6 linked regions of the Homo sapiens genome follow. The protein of the gene in region 3 purifies or fractionates together with the protein of the main gene of each other region. This does not show direct contact. Each region holds a gene or a part of one and is shown on either strand. Other genes may lie near its edges. The genes, in order: FSTL1, SMPDL3B, ZPBP2, LRP11, PROS1 and PALM.

Region 1 (3,500 bases), on a different chromosome or scaffold from region 3:
ATTCCATTATTACTACTTTCACTGTTACTATTTCCATAATGTTACTATTCCATTATCATTTACTTTTGCCCAGGGTCTTGGTCCTCTCTTATTCCAAGCCTCTGGAGTGATTTTCAAACTGAATGCCTATGGGATAAATGTTCTGCCCTCAAAGCTCCCCACTTGGGGCTCCAACCTTACAGGTGTGGGTCTGCCTGGGTTCCTTGCTCCCAGCCACCGCCCTCTTCTCCATCATCCCCACCCCAACTTCTCTCATGCTGATTTCATGAAGCTCTCTCCTTGCTGTTTTTTCTTTCTGCTTGAAGCACAGCTCACCGTCACAGGTCATGGCTGTACAGACCCAATTTCCACAGGCACAGACACAGCGGTTACAGTCCACCTCGGTCTCAGCTCCATCTGCATACGTTTCATCCTCCAGGGCACACTCTGTTGGGCCAGAAATACGGGGCAACAGTTTAGCTGTGAGGGTGGAACAGGGCATCTTTGCTACAGTCTGTGCACCTTACCCTTTTTTCCCAGACAAGACCTGCCTGTCCCTCAGAAGCACTATATCTGAGCAAACACTACCATCAACCTAAAGAATGTGGGGCCCTAACTTCACCATGGGGAGAATGGGCTGGGGCCCAGTTTAGAATCATGGAAGGGGATTTTCTCAGCTAGCTCTGGAGAGTTCCACCAATCCTCTCTATCTTGGCTCCTACAAAATGCCTCCATTCACTACAGCTCTCTATTTCTTAGGTTAGGCATACTCTTCTCAGGAGGGTTGAAAGATGGGTTGAGGCACTTGAGAAACTCTTGGAAGCTGAGTTTCCAATCAGCATTTTCATCAGACAGTTCAATGAGAGCATCAACACAGAGTCCCCTGAAACAAAACACAGGAGAAATGTGTTAGCAAGACCTCAGCTTCGCTCAGAAGAAAGGAAGTAAGCATCAGGACCACATACACCCAGGGCCTCCACAGGAGGCCAAGAAGATGACTGCTAACTAAAACAGCCTCTCTCTACACTGACCCAACACAACTATTATCCATCCTGACCAATGCAGGCATCTAACCTTTAGTTTGTTATATGAATGTCAGATCACCCAGGCTGTCCAAATGTTCCCCCCCTTAAGATGACTAAAGTTTCGTGAATGGTTTTGTCTAATGTTTTCACTGCCTGCATACCTTCCACTAGCAATTGCTTTTCCCCATGGTATATACACGTCAAGTCAACCAAACTAGGAAAATCAAAACAGAAGAGATATGACAGATGACATGAAAGGAATATAGGATTTGAAAGAATATGAAGTTCAAGCAAGAATCACCATTATCATCCTTCTAGAAAGAGATTTTCAGAAAAGCTTTTAGAACTCAGCTCCATCAGCTTGCAGTGAGCCGAGATCCCGCCACTGCACTCCAGCCTGGGCGACAGAGCGAGACTCCGTCTCAAAAAAAAAAAAAAAAAAAAAAAACAAAAACAAAACAAAACAAAAACAAAAACAAAAAAAAACAAAAAACAAAACAAACAAAAAAAAACTCAGCTCCATCACTTCTTTCTTGGGCTGTATTTGAGCCCTGGCTCAATCACTTACTACTCAAATGGACTTGAGTTAGTTATTCAACTTTTCTGAGCCTGTCTTCCCATCCGTAAAAGGAGGACAAGAAGCCCTCCTTCACTGGGATATCATGAGGCTCAAACGTTGAAATTATAAAACATATAATTTCAGATTATCAAAATATGAAGGATTTACAGAACCTATACTTTAAGGTCATAGACTATTATTAAAGAAGAATCCTTCTAGAAACTGTGCAATGCACTTCTTTTGAAAAAAAGACATGCTTTTCCTATTTTTAATTCTTACCGATGTGCTGAAACCACATCAAAAGTTTCTTAGCGATTAGTTTTTATTAATATTGATTCTGGAATAATGCCATAAAAGTAGACGGGCATATATCTGTAACAGTTAGGGCAATTGACATGAAATAGCACTAATTATCTAAAAATCAGAACAAAGCTATTTTAGACCTATAGTTAAATAATACATTACTGTAATTCCTTCAGAAAATTAATCAGTAAAACATCACCCACAACATTCAGAAATAACTTGCTCTGACGTGCCCTTGGCAATTTATTTTAAAATTATATTCTTCTAGTCCTTGCAAGTTCTGACCAAAAACAATAACTATTTGATTAGATATCAGTGGTACTCAATATATTAATTCATACTTTCATAGAATAGAACAGGACAGAATTCCCATTTTGCTTTTTACGTGACATTCTCTCACTGGTGGCTCTTTTGCAGGTGGGAAAGGGTTTAAGTCCCCTCTCTCAGTTAGTCTTCCCTTGTGGATCATTCTCTGACCTCTCGGTTCCTCTCACCTAAGCAACTTGTTGTTCTCCTGGTCTGGATACGTTGTAATATTGATGGCAGTTTCATTCTGTTCCACAAACTTCAGGAATTCACTGGAGTCCAGGCGAGAATCACCATTATCAAAGTTCTAGAAAGGGCATGACAAGATCGTTCAGGGATGTTTTGCAGAACCCCTGTTCCATCATTACTCCACTCAGCTGACCTGCCTCTGATTCATCTTGTTCTTGATACATTCCAACCCTGCCCTGACCTCAGAGGGCCTTGGCAACAAATGCTCTAATCCCTGGGACATGCAGAGAAGGTACCTGTGCCCACAATGAGAGAGGAAAAGTGCCTGGGCAGAGGAGGCAACCTGAACTGAGGCCTCTGGGGTCCCTAAGCATGCTGTGTGGCCCCATCTCTGACACTGCCCTGTAGACACTTTTGACTATACCTTTGGGTTCAGACCAACCTGCACATCATGTTCTCAAGCCCTGATGAACATGTAACAAGAGTTTAAAGTTGCACGCTGTGAATCAGAATCTCTGTAGCAGGTCCCAGAATATGTTTCTAATGAGCTGCTCAGGAACAGCAGCAATGCAGATGACCCTCTGAGCTCACTTTGGAATTATAGGATTCCAAATCTTGTTGCTTGATTCCAGCCTCCTTGTCCTGTTCTCAGTGCTTAACTTTCACTTTGGTGCCCGTAACTGATCACATCAGTGAGAACTCAGGCAAAGGCCTCAAAGCAATAAGCTACAGACAGGGGTCATCATGCAAAGTTCCCGCTCCTCTGCCCTGTGGGCCCCACTGCAGATGTGTGCACAGGTCCTCAGATCATCCAGCTCAGGCTGCCCTCATGACCCAGCTGGCATCCCACAAGCACAAAGTGAGGAGTGCAGTAAGCTCACACACTGTTCTCTATGGCAAGATGCTAAACTGAGACCTCAGCCATCTGGGACCATTCAAGACACCCAGGCACTAGCTGCAGGAGGAGGGTGTCAAATCAAGACTGATCAAATTCCAAGTTGCATATGGCTGCTCTCCTAACAAATTTCAATAACATTTTCCCCCTTCCTCCCAAATCCTTTCCCTAGGCTCCCTCATGCTGCTGCCCTGGGAAAGGATCAGCTTCCCCATGTTACTTTCAAGATGGCTCCCCAGATGGT
Region 2 (3,500 bases), on a different chromosome or scaffold from region 3:
CCTTGCCAAAGGTCAGCGCTCAGGGATGGAGCTGAGCCTGTTCTGTGCTCTGCTCAATGTGTCCCTGGGCAGAGCCAGGCCTGTGGGCCTTTTCTCTGAACCCGGGGTGCTCAGAGAAGACTTCCATTTGCCTGTGTAACGCCCCTGCCCCAGCCCAGGGCTCCCCTGGACTTCCTTGCTTCCAGGCTGAGAGAGAGACCAGCTTTGAAGGAGGATGTTTTTTCCCCTGCAGGGAAGTTCTGGCACATCGCTGACCTGCACCTTGACCCTGACTACAAGGTATCCAAAGACCCCTTCCAGGTGTGCCCATCAGCTGGATCCCAGCCAGTGCCCGACGCAGGCCCCTGGGGTGACTACCTCTGTGATTCTCCCTGGGCCCTCATCAACTCCTCCATCTATGCCATGAAGGAGATTGAGCCAGAGCCAGACTTCATTCTCTGGACTGGGTGAGTACAGTTGAGGTGGCAGCTACCCTTTGCCAGGCATCTGCTATGTGCTACATACCAGTCTGGCCCTTTGCCCACATTATCTCCCTTAATCCTCACATCAGTCTCACGTGAGGCTGAGGAACCTAAAGCTCAAAGGAATTTTGTAACTTGCCCGGGGATTCCTGAGTCCAACTGATTCCACAGTCTGTGTCCTCGACCTCCATGTCTCCTGGCTGTGGCAGAACGCAGCTCTCAATCAGGCTTTTGGACGTGGTCCTGGCATGCCTGGGCACCCGGAGAGTGTCCAGGTTTTAAGCTATGGGTGGACACTGGAGCCATTTCCCCTGGGGCTTAGGGACTCTAAGTCTGAGAGGTCCAAGTGCAGGGAGGGAAGAAGTTATGAGGGCTGAAGGTGGCCCAGCCTGGGGTCCTAGTGTCCTGGCCAGCTGCTGGCCACCCCTGGGCTGCCCAGTGGTCCTGGATTTTCTCACCAGTCAGAGCTCTGCTCTACAGAGTGACAGCTTGAGGGCCGATCCCACTCAGCCGCAGAGACCCAGTTTCTGCTTCCTGTCCAAGGTTGCTGCTCTAATTCCTTCAACTTTCCTGGGAACTTGCCTCCTTATCATTCAAGATTCCCCCATTCCGGCTGGGTATAGTGGCTCATGCTTGTAATTCCAGCACTTTGGGAGGCCGAGGCAGTGGATCACCTGAGGTCAGGAGTTTGAGACCATCCTGGCCAACATGGTGAAACCCCGTCTCTACTAAAAATACAAAAATTAGCCTGGCGTGGTAGTGCACGCCTGTGGTTCCAGCTACTCGGGAGGCTGAGGCAGGAGAATCGCTTGCATTTGGGAGGTAGAGGTTGCAGTGAGCCAAGATCACACCACTACACTCCCAGCCTGAGTGACACAGCAAGACTCTGTCTCAAAAAAAAAAAAGAAAGAAAAAGAAAAAAAGATACCCCCATCTCCTCGCTTGCTCCCTCACTTGGCAGGGCAACAAGTCGTGCTCAGTTGTGGGGTAGATGCTAGGGATCTGAGATGATGGACACCCACACTTGGCTCCAAGGAGCTCACGTTCTTGTGGGCAATGCAGACAAACCCATTGACCCTACCCTTACATCCAAGCAAGGAGAGAGAGTCACCTGGGGGGATGTGGGAACTTCACAGGGCACATGATCCCATCTGGCAGGATTAGGGGAAGGACATCCTGCAGGAGGTGGTGGAGCAGGGGAGCTCTCGAGGAAGGCTGGAAGGAATTCTGACTTTGCGCTCCCTCTACCAGCCTCAGTGGACACTTCTATAAGGCAGGGTGAAACCCATGATGCCCCTAGCTGTGATGTGGTTTGTGGGTGTGACCAGGAAGGACCCTCAGATGAACCTGCCAGGCTGGACACATAAGAAGACATGTGACATTGTCTCAGGAGGGGCCTGGACAGCTCTGGCTTCCTTGGGCTCAGGAATCAATCTAAGAAGAGAGTGAGATTTGGTCCATGACCTTGGGCCTGCTCCCTTGAGGGGAGCTTCTGATTTCTCCGAGAAGGGAGAGCATGTGTAGCATTCAGACAGATGGGATCCCTCAGGAAATTCATGATCCTTTAACAGATGCACATTTTTTTTTTTTTTTGAGATGGAGTTTCGCTCTTTTTGCCCAGGCTGGAGTGCAATGGCGTGATCTTGGCTCACCACAATCTCCGCCTCCTGGGTTCAAGCGATTCTCCTGCCTCAGCCTCCCGAGTAGCTGGGATTACAGGCATGCGCCACCACGCCCGGCTAATTTTGTATTTTTATTAGAGACAAGGTTTCTCCATGTTGGTGAGAGTGGTCTCAAACTCCCGACCTCAGGTGATCTGCCCGCCTCAGCCTCCCAAAGTGCTGGGATTGCAGGCGTGAGCCACTGCACCCGGCCACAGTTGCACCTTTTTTTCCTGGGAAATCTCTGAGACCTTGAAGAGGTACACAGCATCAGATGAGAAGATCTCTAGGACCCTTTACAATTCTTCAATTATAATAAAATTTGACTTCTAAGAGAGCTGCAGTCCCTTTGAGGATGGCCATTAGAAATTAGGTATGTTTTACTACTCAGGAGGCTGAGGCAGGAGAATCGCTTGAACCTGGGAGACGGAGGTTGCAGTGAGCCGAAATTGCGCCACTGCACTCCAGCCTGGGTGACAGAGCGAGACTCCATCTCAAAAAAAAAAAAAAAAAGAAATTAGGTGTTTTTTTGTTTTTTTTTTTTAAGATGGAGTCTCGCTCTGTCGCCCAGGCTGGAGTGCAGTGGTGCGATCTCGGCTCACTGGTGCCCCCTACCACGCCTGGCTAATTTTTGTATTTTTAGTAGAGACAGGGTTTCACCATATTGGCCTGGCTGGTCTCGAACTCCTGACCTTATGATCCGCCTGCCTCGGCCTCCCCAAGTGCTGGGATTACAGGCGTGAGTCACCGCCCCCGGCCTAGGTGTGTTTTTTATCAGACAGAATTAGATTCTCTAACCTAGAAATTAAAAATATGAAATTTTGTCCCTGTGTCTTTGGGTTTCCGGCCTGTCCCCAGGGAGTTTTCAGGGCAAAACAGCCCCTCTTGCTGCCCTAATGTGGGTATCAGAGACACTATAGGATGCAGTGGCTGTGAGCATAGACTCTGGGGCCAGGCTGACTGGGCTCAAATCTTGGCCCCACCACTTTCTAGTGGTGTACACTTAGGTACAATTTTTCCCCCGTGTCTCTGGTGCTTGATTTAGGATAGGCAAAATTCTTAACTTTTCTGTGTCTTGGTTTCTTTATCTGTCAAACGGGCCTAAACTAATAATAGAATTTACATTGCAGTGTTATAATGGGGAAAAAATTAGTGGCTGTGGCAACAACACACAGAAAGTGCCTGGCAGAAAGTCAGCCGGTGTGAGCTTCTAGCAGCAGTATTAATACTATTATGCTAATTAGTTTCCCTGGGGGAATACCTGGGCAGCAGAGGCCCCAGGATTTTGACTGTCCGGACGTCTCCCCATCCCTACACTCCACCTGCCACCATTCTCCTCCCCTTGCCAAGCATTTCTAAGGTGGACCCAAGAATTTTG
Region 3 (3,500 bases):
CCATATGAAAAGATGTTCAACATCAGATGCCATTAGGGAATTGCAAATTAAAACAATAAAATACCACCATACACCTATTAGAATGGTCAAAATAAAAAAAAACTAACAATACCAAATGCTGGGAAAGATAAGGATAACAGGAATACTTTTTCATTTCTGGTGAATGCAAAACGGTAAGCCACTTTGGGAGACAGTATGGCAGTTTCTCATAAAACTACACATAGTCACACTCCGGCAGTCATATTCCTAGGTTATTTACACAATTGGGTTGAAAACTTATGTTCATACAAAAACCTGCACACAAATGTTTATAGCGGCTTTATTTTTAATCACTGAAAACTGGAAGCAATCAAGATTTCCTTTAATGGGCGAATGGATAAACATACTATGCTATATCCATACAATGAACATTATTCAGCAATAAAAAATGAGCTATCAAGTCACAAAAAGACATGGAGGAACCTTAAATGCATATTGCTAAGTGAAAGAAGCCAGTCTAAAAAGTCTACATACTGCATAACTCCAACCAACTACATGACATTTTGGAAAAGGCAAAACTGTAGAGACAGTAAAAAGATCAGTGGTTGCCAGGGCACGGCGGGAGGGATAAATAAGTGAAGCACAGGATTTTGAGGGTGGTGAAACTATTCTGTATGAGACTGCAATGGTGCACACATGCCATTATGAATTTGTCAAAACCCACATAACCTTACAACACAATGAATCTTAATGTGAACTATGGGCTATAATTAATAATAAATTAATATTGGTTCATCATTTGTAACAAATGTGCCACACTAATGCACCATCTTAATAATAGGAGAAATTGTGTAAGGAGGAATGAGGGTATGGGGTGCAGTGGGTGTATGGAACTCTATATATTATCTGCTCTATTATTCTGTAAACCTAAACCTATACTTTAAAAAATACAGTATATTAATTTATCTTAAAAAATAAAATCATAGGGACCAAAATAAATAACTTTTTTGGTTCTAATACAAAGATAATATACACGCCTTTATATCACACAAGAGTGATTCCAAACAAATAAATATATGGAGAGTATACAATTTTTATTTTATTATACTTTGATACTCTTCTTGACCTTACTATACTCTTAGGTACACAGCAACATACCGTTTGTAAACAATAAAACATTTCATTAAAAATAATCCATTAAAACTTCAAGTTTCCTTTGTACACTAGAGATACTGGATTAAATGCCTTCTTAGAAATGCCATGTTAACCATTTATTTTAAAGTTTCCAAAATGCATGTTTTCCAGTGGTTTGGTCTTACTGATTTTACTTAATGGAACTATCTATGATGCTCTGGGATGTGAAAATCATCTTATGTCCCCGACTTCCACAAGTAAGTAACAATGCTTTCACCTCTAATCTTCATATTGCTGATTTTTGTTTGAAGTTTGTGGGCAAGATTTAGCTCCATAGGTAAGGACGGAAACGCAGGTCTGACAAGTTACATTAACATCAGGACTAAAAGTCGCAGGACTACAAACCACTGCAGAGGAAAACACAGGGAGTAATTATAATTTAGAGATATTTTATGCCTCTACTACTTGGAGGTATTCTATACCAACAATATAAATCTGCCTTTAATATCATACCATTTCAGTACCTATATTATACCAGGTAATGTTCAGCCCATTTAAGTTGTGGAAGATTATGTGAGTTTCAAACTTTATAATTTGATGATCTTAAAGATAGGAGAAAGTGAGAATCCTATTTTTTCTTTTACTATCAGCATTTTACAGTATCTTCTGCAGTGCCCCATTTATGAGTTCCTATTTCTAGTTTTCTAGTTCCTATTTCCTAGTTCTCTGCTTTCCAGGTAGGACCATTCTGTTTTCCTTCATTGTACAGTAGCTTAAGACAGAACATTATAGAAATGTTTATAATACAAGAGAGTACATCAGGAAGAGTTAATATACATTAAAATAACTATATTTAGAAATTTGGGCTTTGGCTGGGCGCAGTGGCTCATGCCTGTAATCCCAGCACTTTGGGAGGCCAAGGCGGGCAGATTGCTTGAGCCCAGGAATTCCAAGACCAGTCTGGGCAACAGGGCGAAACTCTGTCTCTACTAAAAATACAAAAATTAGTCAGTAAAAATACAAAAATTACAGATTGCACACCTGTAATCCTGGCTACTCAGGAGGCTGAGGTTGAAGGATGGTTTGAGCTTGGGAGGCAGAGTTGCCATAAGCTGAGACTGCGCCACACTGCACACTGCACTGCAGCCTGGGTAACAGAGCCAGACTCCATCTCAAAAAAAAAAAAAAAAAAAAAAAAAAAAAAAGGGGCCAAGCATGGTAGCCCACACCTATAATCCCAGCACTTTCGGAAGCCAAGGCAGACGGATCCTTTGAGGTCAGGAGTTCAGTCGAGACCAGCCTGGCCAACATGGTGAAACTCTGTCTCTACTTTTTACAAAAATTAGCCAGCTGTGGTAGCTACTGGGGAGGCTGAGGCAGAAGAATCACTTGAACCCTGGAGACGAAGGTTGTGGTGAGCTCAGATGACGCCACTGCACTCCAGCATGGGTGAAAGAGTGAGACTCTATCTCAAAAAAAACAAAAAAAAAAAAAATTGGGGCTTTGAATTTTTACTTCCTTTTAGCTAAATATATATATATTTTTTGGTAAGAGAATCACTGTAAAGATTCTATTCAGTTATGCCAAGTGAATTACTTATATATTCTTCTGACTCTATAACCTAAATGTTTAGATATTTATATTTTATAGTTACCACAACAGCTAGCGCAATTACTGTGTAGACGTTCATTTTTTCCAAAGCCTGGTCGACAGCTATCCAGACGTACTACTTGCAAACTGTGGTCCACAAAATGCATTGCTGGTAGAGTTTTATTAAAGTTATGGTAGAAAATATATGCTTGGCTCCGAAAAAAGTCTTCTATTCGATCTCTTGCCTAAGGTTGAAAAATACCAGAGAAAGGTACAATTACTAAACCATGAACCAAATTTATCCTCCAGTATCACAGGCAATAATGTACTGTAAGCATGCCATACTTAACGTAGATAAATTCCTGAAAAGGTGTGTGTTAACACCAAAATTAGTTAGCTTTGACCTTATCAACTGTTGTCAATTAATATGTGCAATGGTTAAGAAAAATTGGCTGGGAGCGGTGGCTCATGCCTGTAAACCCAGCACTTTGGGAGGCCAAGGCGGGCAGATCGCGAGGTCAAGAGTTCGAGACCATCCTGGCCAACATGGTAAAACTCCATCTCTATTAAAAATACAAAAATTAGCTAGGTGTGGTGGCATGTGCCTGTAGTCTCAGCTACTCAGGAGGCTGAGGCAGGAGAATTGCTTGAACCTCGGAGGCGGAGGTTGCAGTGAGCCGAGATCGTGCCACTGCACTCCAGCCTGGCGACAGAGCGAGACCCCGTCTCAGAAAAAATAAATAAATAAAAATTAAAATTAAGATTAGGCTGGGCGTGGTGGCTCACGCCTGTGATCC
Region 4 (3,500 bases), on a different chromosome or scaffold from region 3:
AGTCTTCCACAATGTTTCCTGACAGTCTTCATCCACCAAATGGGGATGTGCCTACAAGTGAGGGTGTCCAGTGGATTACAGATCTCTCTAAGCTGCCTGGCACTCAGTGGGTGCTCAATCCGTGGGGGCTTTGATTATGATGAAGTCTCAGCAGGATGAGTGTTAACTTTGGGTGACATTCATGAATGTATATCATTCTAAGACAGTCACAAATTGGTAACAGATGTTTCCCCTAGTACAGGCCCTGTCATTTAGATGATGGCTTCATAACTTGAGGTCTACCTGCCGTCACTGTTATACACGATTGGGAACTGGTTCAGAGTTTCCTCTTGAAGGCAAGAAAAATGCAGCACGAACCCACTGTGTGATGCAGCTACTGACACAGTTCATGTAACGAAGCTCATTAATAGAAGGAGAGGCAATATCTGGATCACAGTAGGTAATGAATGAGTCAGAAAACCAAAGCTTAAATATGGGGTTCAATTAGGGGTATTAGATGTTAAGAAGGGTATGGATTAATATGAGAAAATCCAGACAAGGCAGGATAGTGGCGGGCCTGAAAAATCAATTCATATGAGGAACATCTGACAAACTGTGGGGTGCTGAGTTCTGAGAACAGCATACCAATTGGTGATGTTCTTTCTTTCTTTCTTTCTTTTTTTCAAAGACTTCCAAAGCTTTTACACAGGATAAAAAGATGAGTTCAGTGTTTTTCCAAAGGGAAGACCCAACACCAATGCACAGAAGTAAGGGGAGGCGTAGCCTGCTTGCCCAACACAGTGATGAGTAATGTCATGGACATGATGTGAAGTAGTGAGCTTCTGCCCTTGGAAAAGTCAGACAGATGGCAGATGAGCCTTGGAAGGGGTGTTGTGGAAGGCACTCTTGTTTGGAGGAGAGGCTGGGAAGGATGCTGGGTGTATTAGTCCATTCTCACACTGCTACAAAGAACTGCCCGAAACTGGGTAATTTACAAAGGAAAGAGGTTTAATTGACTCATAGTTCCACATGGCTGGGGAGGCCTCAGGAAACTTACTAGTATAATCACCGCAGAAGGCAAAGGGGAAGCAAGGCACCTTCTTCACAAGGTGGCAGGAGAAACAACCAAATACTTATAAAACCAGCAGATCTTGCGAGAACTCACTCACTATCATGAGAATAGCATGGGGGTGACTGCCTCCATAATTCAGTAACCTCCACCTGGTCTCTCCCTTGACACGTGGAGATTATGGGGATTACAATTCAAGATGAGATTTTTGGGTGGGGACAAAGGCAAACCATACTGGACGAGGGTGAGTCCAATTCTAATGCAATATAATCAGGGAGTAAAATCACTCTTACTTAAACCAGTGATGAGGGACTTCCAGATTTGTTTTTGTTTTGGTTCCAGTAGAGTACAAATCAGTGCCTCCTTACCTCACCCTCTTTCTCCACTTCCTCTAACTGAAGTGGTTTGGATGCAGTTTATCTGCCTAAGCCAGGAAGTGCTTATTTGCCTAAGCCAGGAATCCACCCTGAGAGGGTGAATAAAAAGCCACTTGTCTCACCACCCAAGACTTCCTGAGCATAGGCAGCCACCAGCCACATGGCTGATTTCCATCGGCGGCTATCCCAGGAGCCCCGGGCAGGAGCCCCGGGCAGGAGCACCGCATGCTGGCCTCCCTCCCTCACAGGCTCGGTGTGCCCCAGCAGACCTAGCTGCCAGGTAAGCTGTCTACTTTCCGGCTCATGTGAAGGATAAGTTCATCCTATTGTTATTGTCCTCTTTAGACTCCTTTGTAGTTTCAAATTTTCTACCTGGATCTTGAGCTCAGAAAAAGAAATAGAACTTTAAAAAAGTAATCTGAGTCATTAAAACAAAGCATGAGCCTTCTTCCTTGAAGTGTCTTTGTCCTCTAGACAAGTCACAAACAGCAGCTAGAAGGAGGGTAGGCTCCAAGACAAATGATCGAGATTGCTGCTCACTCTCAGCAGAAAAGCACATTGAGATAATAAACCATTTTGGCATAATCAGTTTTATACAGTCTCCATTTTATGCCTTCTGCTAGCGTACAGACATTTAGGGAGCATGAAGTGGCAGGACATTACAAAAGACCACTTCACTGAAATACTCGTTTTTGTTAGCAGTGACAACATGCGTTACCTTCATGTCCACTGACGGGTCCCCCTGCAGCAGTGCCCACTCATACTGGACGATGGCGTGGTCATCTGTGCTCTCGCGGCCGTCTAGAACCACCCCGTCTGTGGGCAGATGCAGAACCACATCCTGCCCAGCCTTGCTAAGTGGAGGCGCATCCTTTTCTGAGAAAGAAAATAAATAATTCATAAAAGATGATTTCTTATTTTTTCTAATTTATGGAGAGGTATCTTGTTTGCTGAATAGATATGATTCGGCAAATAACTGCTAAGAGAATCCATATTAAATGGAAATTATTTTTCTATTTATTTTATGATCGTGGAATTTAGCTATAATATGCGCAGAAGAGGCTGTGTGGAGTGTTGGCTGGTAGCGATTTTGGGTACAAGGCAGCATACGAGGTCCCACCAATGTGTAAATATGGAGAAGCAGTTTTATTTTCTAGAGTGGATTTTTCACTTAATTTTAAAATCACTTAAGTTCAAAATACTGTTAAATAAATTTATTTTAAAAGATTATTATTATTTTGAGATGGAGTTTTGCTCTTGTCACCCAGGCTGGAGTGCAATGGTGCAGCCTCGGCTCACTGCAGCCTCTCCCTCCCGGGTTCAAGCGGTTCTTCTGCCTCAACCGCCCGAGTAGCTGGGATTACATGTGTGTGCCACCACATCCTGCTAATTGTTTTTTGTATTTTTAGTAGACACAGGGTTTTGCCATGTTGGCCAGGCTGGTCTCGAACTCCTGGCCTCAGGTGATCCATCTGCCTCGGCCTCTCAAAGTGCTGGGATTAGCAGCGTGAGCCACTGCGCCTGGCCTTGAAAAGATTATTAAAACAAACCTGAAAAACACCAAATTCACCTCTAATATGGATTTTCTTTTTTTCTTATCCTCAAGTTTTAAAAATAGGAGTGATATAAAGTATTCAATGAATGGGAAATATATTAAGTTTGAAAAGTTAAGGCAAATTTTTAGAGCCATACAAAATAAAGCCTGCATGTAAATTCTCTGGAATCCAATTTTTCATCTAGGAAAATTGAAGACGTTCACCGTTTCTAATAACTAATTTTTATAATAGAAGCCAGCAGGCTCAGATGACTACAACAGCAAAATAAATCTGTATTTACCTTTGTTTTTGTTTTGTTTTGCTTTTGAGACAGGGTCTCTATCACCCAGGCTGGTGCACGATCATAGCTCACTCACTGTAGCCTCCAACTCCTGGGCTCAAGTGATCCTCCTGCCTTAGCCTCCCGAGTAGTTAGGACTGCAGGTGTGTGCTAACCTTCCCACCTATTTTCACTCTTTTGTAGTGAGAGTTGCCCAGGCTGGTCTTGAACTCCTGACCTCAAGTGATCCTCCCACCTCA
Region 5 (3,500 bases), on a different chromosome or scaffold from region 3:
TGAAACCAGCCTGGCCAACATGGCAAAACCTCGTCAAAAATACAAAAATTAGCAGGGCATGGTGGCGCACCCTTGTAATTCCAGCTACTCAGGAGGCTGAGGCATGAGAATCACTTGAACCTGCAAGGTGGAGGTTGCGGTGAGCCGAGATTGTGGCACTGAGCTCCAGCCTGGGTGACAGAGTGAGACTCAGTCTCAAAAAAAAAGAAAAAAAGAAAGAAAAGAAAAAGAAAAACTAGCTACCAAACCATTCCCTTATTCTAAGCAGAAGGTAGTATTTTGAAAATCTGAGGCTGGGTGCGGTGGCTCACACCTGTAATCCCAGCACTTTGGGAGGCCAAGGGGGTGGATCATGAGATCAGCAGTTCAAAACCAGCCTGGCCAAAAACACAAAAATACAAAAATTAGCCGGGCGTGGTGGCGGGCGCCTGTAGTTCTAGCTACTCAGGAGGCTGAGGCAGAAGAATCACTTGAATCCAGGTGGCAGAGGTTGCAGTGAGCCAAGATTGCATCACTGCACCCCAGCCTGGGTGACAAAGTGAGACTCCATCTCAAAAACAAAACAAAACAAAATAAAAGATCTGAAACCTGTGGTGCATTAAGGGTAATCCTGGCACCAACAAAACTTAAGAAGCTCAACTTTTCACTAGATTGATTCAATCCCATTACTAAGAGCCTAGCAAAAGAAATGTGCTCATTTCCAGACACAAATATTCTTTATCTCAGTCTCTACTGTTATACGTAAGATGCCCAAATCTAAACCAAAAATTACATGGTACACAAAGATGCAAGAAAAACAACACTTGGTCAAGGGACAAAGCAAACAAAATGACGAGACTCAGATATGACACAGTTGGAACTACGAGACAGGGAATTTAAAATAATTATGATGAATACATTGAAAACTCAGTACATAAACTAGACAAGTGTGAACAGATAGGGAATTTCAACAGGGAGGTAGAAATTTTAAGAAAGCATCAAATAGAAATGCTAGAAATGAAGATGAATCTTTCTGATGCATTCATTGATAGACTCCATACAAGTGAGAAATCAGTGAACTTTAAAATAGGTCAATTGAATTTACCCATAAGGAATCAGGCTATGTACTGATAAACCTGAAATAACAACACAAGCACATTCAAATGCCTTTATATTTTTCCCAATACACTGAAAAATTTTTGTAAAAGGTATATAATAGTATGAATAAGCATAAGACTAGAGTGGGCACACAGTAGATACTCAATAATGTTTCACAAATAAATTATTACTGTTTGTTAATGAATAAATTTACTCATTAATGAGAAAATAGAGATAAATGGAAAATCACTTACTATAATCTATGTGAAATTGAGCAATTCCAGAACCAGGATAGTAGGAGCCCTTCTCCACAGTAACCAGGCAATGCTTATTTTGTTTTTCTTGAATAATTTCCTTTATTCCAGAAGCTCCTTGCTTCATCAAATTCCAGCTTCGTATACATCCATCTAGACGAGGGTTAATCTAACAAATTAAAATACAAGTCAAGGAGTGCATTTTAAACTTAAACAGTGGCTCGATTATGAGTATAGGTTTTCATTAAGAGAAAAAAAATCCTTTCTTTGATAATAGTTGAAAATATTTTGAATTTTATTTAAGTTTTTCTTTTCAAAGTATTCTTCAGATGGACAGTCTTTTTCAGTACAAGCAAGCTCATACTATCACAAGCCCTCAGTGGGATCTTAATGGTTTTTAACACTTCAAGCCCCACCTGCCTCTCCTACATCATCCAGTGGTAACTTTTCTGCTTTCAAGTTCTATATTTGCTTCTAGCTGTGGCCCTGGGCTCTAAGTTGTCTTGTTTATCTTCTTTGTTTGTTTGATTGAGATGGAGTCTTGCTGGAGTGCAGTGGCAGGATCTTGGCTCACTGCAACCTCTGCCTCCCTGGTTCAAGCGATTCTCCTGCCTCAGCCTCCTGAGTAGCTGGGATTACAGGTGCCCACCACCACGCCTGGCTAATTTTTGTACTTTTAGTAGAGATGGGGTTTTGCTACATTGGCCAGGCTGGTCTTGAACTCCTGACCTCAGGTGATCCACCCGCCTCGGCCTCCCAAATTGCTGGGATTACAGGTGTGAACCACCACGCCTGGCCTTGTTTTTCTTTAGTGGCATTTATAATATGGGTTTGTCTTGCCAATCAGACTCTAAGTCTCTTCAGACACAAAAGTGTTTGCATTCTTTAGCCTCCATCAAGTATCCTGCCAGGCTCAAGACATGTAATAACCGTTTCATAAATGATTGATACTTTTTGAATAATTTATTTTACTTTTAAAGTGTATTAATTTCTCAGTTTCAAACAACAGGTATACTCATGTCAACATGGGTTAATTAATTCAAGCTTAATATCATATAATGGAAATCTTTTAAAAGTTAAAGTAACTACGAATTTCCAGAGAATGAAAGACGGATGTAAGATAGTAAATATTTAACAATAAATTTCACCTTATGTGCTATTCTTTAGCTCTTGCATTTAAGTCCTAAAAATAGACTTGAGAAAGTCCTTTGACTGGCTTTTACAAAATGGTGTAATTTTGGACTTAAATATATGAATTTATATGTTTAACAACTGAGTATGGATTATCATGATGTTAACACTGAACATTACATTACTAATGTTAACATTAGTGTTAACATTCTCAAGTGTTAACTTGAGAATTTTAGAAATCCACTTCATGATTTATGCTGGGGATTTAAATGGGCACAAAACCACTACGTCATTTTTTTATTTCATTAATATAATTTCAAGGGTTACTAATGTTATTTTTCCATGATCATTTCAAGTTGTCACACTTAGTATGCTTAACAAAACAACTTCTATTGATTCTCAGAAACACACATATTCAAATCTATTACAGACAAAAGGAACTCATCCATGATGAATGATACAAGCTTGGATCATTACCGGTTTAATGAGTTCACTTTCCACTTTCCGAGGGAATCCTGCAAAGTATACTTTGGTTTCCAGCAATCCATTTTCCGGCTTAAAAAGGGGTCCAGGTTTATTTATATCCATCACAGCTTCTTTAGCTATTTTAATGCTAATACTATGTTCTAATTCTTCCACAGACACCTACAATTAAAAAGAAAAATTACCAAATAACCAAGTATTACTACATGTCATTTGAAATACTGGGATCTAAAACTTATGTTATTATTCCAATAAAATACTTCTGTAAAGTAATCATTTTAATGTAATTATTAATTTGTTACAACTCATTTGGAATGTCAAATTATGATAAATGTGATAAAAAGGCATTTAGGGTGGCAGCACGATCAAAAATTAAAAGCATACCATATTTTAAAGTTAAAAAAAATACTATTCTGTTAAGCTTAAACATCCAGTTATATATCTTTCAATTCCAGGCTGCTAGAAAATTAACAATTAAGTGAGCCATTCTATCTTAGGAAAAATTTAAGTGGCCTTATTTTGCAATTGTCTGATAATACGCACATGGAATCAATA
Region 6 (3,500 bases), on a different chromosome or scaffold from region 3:
GGTCCTCAGAGCCTGTGTCTCCCCTGAGCGCTGGCACCCCCGGCCCTGCTTCCTCCACCGCCCTGCCCTGCTCCAAGCCCCGGAGTCCAAGCCCCAATGTCAGCCCCTCACCCTTCATCAGCTCCCAGCTTCCCCTTTCCCTTCTCCACCGCCAAGATCAGCTCAAGCACAGCCACCTCCTCCAGGCAGCCTTCCAGGAAGGAACCTCCTCCCAGCCCTCCCAGGATGCAGCACGGAGGCCCCCAGGGCCATCCCAGTCTCTGGGGCACCGAGAACCCTAAACGGGTTACGGCAGAGAGGCATCACCCCGGGGGAGAGGAGAAGACGGAGGTCAAAGCAGGCCACAGATGCAGAGAAGCAAACCTGTTGCCTATTAACCTGGGGTGGGAAGGGACCCTGCCCGGGCCCTCAGGGGAAGACGGGGCAGTGAGGCGTGAACGGGGCCTTCCCTGGCTTTCAGCAGGGTCTCAGGGCAAACCCTGCTGCAGAGGCCCCATGGTCCCTCCCCACGCGACTGCACTCCAGCCACACTCCTGAGACGTCCCACAGAGCTCCCACTGCAGGGCCATTGTGCTGGCTGCATTGCTGCCTGGTGCACGGTCACCCAGACCTCCCCGGGCCTCAGGCCCAAGGCCTTTCTGCAGACGTCACCTCCTCATTTAGGCCTCTTCTGTCCTAATTTTCAGCCCCAGGCACCCCTGCAGCTGTCACCACCCGGATCACTTTACTTATCTTTTTCTTTTCTTTTTTTTTGAGATGGAGTCTCCCTCTGTTGCCCAGGCTGGAGTGCGGTGGCGCGATCTCGGCTCGCTGCAACCTCCGCCTCCTGGGTTCAAGTGATTCTCCTGCCTCAGCCTCCTGAGTAGCTGGGATTACAGGCACATGCCACCACGCCCGGCTAATTTTCGTATTTTTAGTAGAGACGGGGTTTCACCATGTTGGCCAGGCTGGTCTCGAACTCCTGACCTCAGGTGGTTCGCCCGCCTCAGCCTCCCAAAGTGCTGGGATTACAGGCGTGATCTTGTCTTCCCACTAGGACAGCAACTGTGTCATTTTTGTCCCTGCCATGTCCCTGGCACCAGGCATACAGCAGGTGCTCAATAAATGCTTGCTGCCCCAGGGAGTCGATTAGGGTCTTTCCATCTTCAGAGGAAGCCCCCACCCAGAGGTCCCCCCAATCCCGGCCCCCTCTTCTCACACTCCCGCCACTCCCAGGGCCACCTGTCATCTGATCACTGCCTCTTCTTTTTAAAGAAACTCACTGTCACGACTTACACTTATGTAAAGTAGGACCCGGACTCCTCAGTGTGAACAGAGCACAAGCTCCAACCATCTCGGGGGGTAACTACAGATTCACAGATAAACCAACCCGGGTGTCCATCCACAGATGTGTGGGTAAACGCAATGTGGCCGTCCACGCACTGGGACATGACTCAGCCGTGAACAGGAGCGAGGCTCTGACCCAGGCCACGGCGCGGATGCACCTTGAGGACATCACGCTCAGTGAGAGACGCCAGACACAGAAGGCCACGCAGCGTGTGATCCCATGTCTACGAAATGTCCAGGACCTGCCGATCCAGAGACAGGAAGGGGACTGGCTCCCCGAGGGCTGGGGGGAGGGGGACGGGAGGGGATGCCTAATGGGGACAGGGCTTGTTTTGGGGGTGATGAAAATGTTCTACAATTGTGGTGAAAGATACACAACTCTGCTGGGCGCGGTGGCTCACACCTGTAATCCCAGCACTTTGGGAGGCCAAGGCAGGTGGATCACAAGGTCAAGAGATTGAGACCATCCTGGTCAATATGGTGAAACCCCGTCTCTACTAAAAACACAAAAATTAGCCGGGCGTGGTGGCACGTGCCTGTAATCTCCGCTGCTCAGGAGGCTGAGGCAGGAGAACCACTTGAACCCGGGAGGCGGAGGTTGCAGTGAGCCGGGATTACGTCACTGCACTCCAGCCTATGTGACAGAGAGACTCTGTCTCAAAAAAAAAAAAAGTACACCCTGTCAGTGTACTAAAAACGCCTGAGCTGTACACTTTAAGCAGCCAGACTGTGTAGCGTGTGAAATGTATTTTAATGAAGCTGTTAAGAATGATATACATACAGACGTGTGTATACATACCTGTGTACGTGTGTGTATACGTGCATGTGTAATGGGAATGCCAGCCTTCTCAACAAGAGCCAGGCCAGGGGCTGGGGTCCTTCCCAACCCCCATGGAGTGCTGAAACCCCTGCTGGCCCTGCCCTGAGACTTTCCATGGCTGGAAGCGTTTGAATACAAACTGATGAGGACATCAGCTTCTCGCTCCCTGACAGGGGTTACTGAAGAACCCTGGGCCTCTGTCCCTCCCCGGCCTTCAGGGTCCCGCATCTCTGCCTCCATTGCCCACAGCCTCTGCCCACCCAGGAGGGGCTCCCAGGCCTGGCCCTGTCCCACCACCAGTCTGTTGACCATGCAGCGCCTCCCACTCAGCTGGCCTCACTCTGGTCCTAATCTAAACTTTCTTTTTTTTTTTTTTTGAGAGAAAGAGTCTCGCTCTGTCACCCAGGCTGGAGGGCAGTGGCGCAATCTCGGCTCACTGCAACCTCCTCCTGGGTTCAAGCGATTCTCCTGCCTCAGCCTCCCGAGTAGCTGGGATTACAGGCACCTGCCACCATGCCTGGCTAATTTTTGTATTTTTGGTAGAGACGGGGGTTTCACCATGTTGACCAGGCTGGTCTCGAACTCCTGAACTCAGGTGATCTGCCCGCCTCGGCCTCCCAAAGTGCTGGGATTACAGGCGTGAGCCACCATGCCCAGCCCTAATCTAAGTCTTCCCCATCCCAAGGCCTAGCTCCCCTTCCCTCTTCCCACCCAGTCCAGGCTCTGTCCTGGTGACTGGCTCTGACTGTCCCTGAATTTCTGCTTGAAACCCTGGGGCGGGAGACAGCCACTCTGGCCTGATTTTACACTCCTCAGACACCAAGACGTCCACGCAGCCATCCTCCTAGAGGACGCCCTCCACCCCCTCATGTATCCAGGGACCAGGCTACTTCTCCCCAGCCAGGGAGCCCCGTCCCTGTGGGCATCACTGACCACACGCAGTTCTGGAATCCTGTGTTTGCCCTCCTAGACGTGGGGTCCTGCCCCCTCTGGCTCTGCCATTTCTCTGCATGCTGCCCCTGCAGCCACAATCAAGGCTTGGCCATGACTTGCTCCTCCCTGGGCTCACTCCTCAGCTGCCAGCGCCTTTTTTGATGACCAGGTCAGCCACTGCTCCTCCCCTGCTCACACACTATCCATGACTCCCCATCCTGGCACTCAAGGCCTAGCAGGAACAAACACCAAAGAGCATTCTCTTCTTCCAATGCTTTCCCACCTCTAGCCCTTTGCACATGCCAGTCCTTCCACAAGGTGCATCCTTCTGCCTGCCTGGATGAACCCTGAAACATCCTTCTCAGAAAAGGTTCATGATGGACTGGATGAGGAAGCCTTTCTCACACCTCAGAGAAGATGC

Evidence for each region.
Region 1: the proteins of ZPBP2 (region 3) and FSTL1 purify together in Homo sapiens (affinity purification with mass spectrometry; one large-scale study listed by BioGRID and IntAct). This does not show direct contact.
Region 2: the proteins of ZPBP2 (region 3) and SMPDL3B purify together in Homo sapiens (affinity purification with mass spectrometry; one large-scale study listed by BioGRID and IntAct). This does not show direct contact.
Region 4: the proteins of ZPBP2 (region 3) and LRP11 purify together in Homo sapiens (affinity purification with mass spectrometry, with the first as the bait; one large-scale study listed by BioGRID). This does not show direct contact.
Region 5: the proteins of ZPBP2 (region 3) and PROS1 purify together in Homo sapiens (affinity purification with mass spectrometry; 3 studies listed by BioGRID and IntAct, with this or other methods). This does not show direct contact.
Region 6: the proteins of ZPBP2 (region 3) and PALM purify together in Homo sapiens (affinity purification with mass spectrometry; one large-scale study listed by BioGRID and IntAct). This does not show direct contact.

Annotation. Positions count from the first base shown.
Region 1 is NC_000003.12:120,402,493-120,405,992, forward strand, and holds part of FSTL1 (follistatin-related protein 1 precursor), read right to left. Parts: intron 2,480-3,500; coding exon 2,361-2,479; intron 863-2,360; coding exon 750-862; intron 427-749; coding exon 316-426; intron 1-315.
Region 2 is NC_000001.11:27,945,000-27,948,499, forward strand, and holds part of SMPDL3B (acid sphingomyelinase-like phosphodiesterase 3b isoform 1 precursor), read left to right. Parts: intron 1-232; coding exon 233-446; intron 447-3,500. UniProt on the Homo sapiens protein: Lipid-modulating phosphodiesterase. Active on the surface of macrophages and dendritic cells and strongly influences macrophage lipid composition and membrane fluidity. Acts as a negative regulator of Toll-like receptor signaling.
Region 3 is NC_000017.11:39,874,702-39,878,201, reverse strand, and holds the end of ZPBP2 (zona pellucida-binding protein 2 isoform 2 precursor), read right to left. Parts: intron 2,949-3,500; coding exon 2,768-2,948; intron 1,521-2,767; coding exon 1,393-1,520; 3' UTR 306-1,392; downstream 1-305.
Region 4 is NC_000006.12:149,850,860-149,854,359, forward strand, and holds part of LRP11 (low-density lipoprotein receptor-related protein 11 isoform 1 precursor), read right to left. Parts: intron 2,333-3,500; exon of another isoform or gene 2,302-2,332; coding exon 2,144-2,301; exon of another isoform or gene 2,125-2,143; intron 1,706-2,124; exon of another isoform or gene 1,555-1,705; intron 1-1,554.
Region 5 is NC_000003.12:93,883,397-93,886,896, forward strand, and holds part of PROS1 (vitamin K-dependent protein S isoform 2 preproprotein), read right to left. Parts: intron 3,108-3,500; coding exon 2,940-3,107; intron 1,501-2,939; coding exon 1,332-1,500; intron 1-1,331. UniProt on the Homo sapiens protein: Anticoagulant plasma protein; it is a cofactor to activated protein C in the degradation of coagulation factors Va and VIIIa. It helps to prevent coagulation and stimulating fibrinolysis.
Region 6 is NC_000019.10:715,435-718,934, reverse strand, and holds part of PALM (paralemmin-1), read right to left. Parts: intron 1-3,500. UniProt on the Homo sapiens protein: Involved in plasma membrane dynamics and cell process formation. Isoform 1 and isoform 2 are necessary for axonal and dendritic filopodia induction, for dendritic spine maturation and synapse formation in a palmitoylation-dependent manner.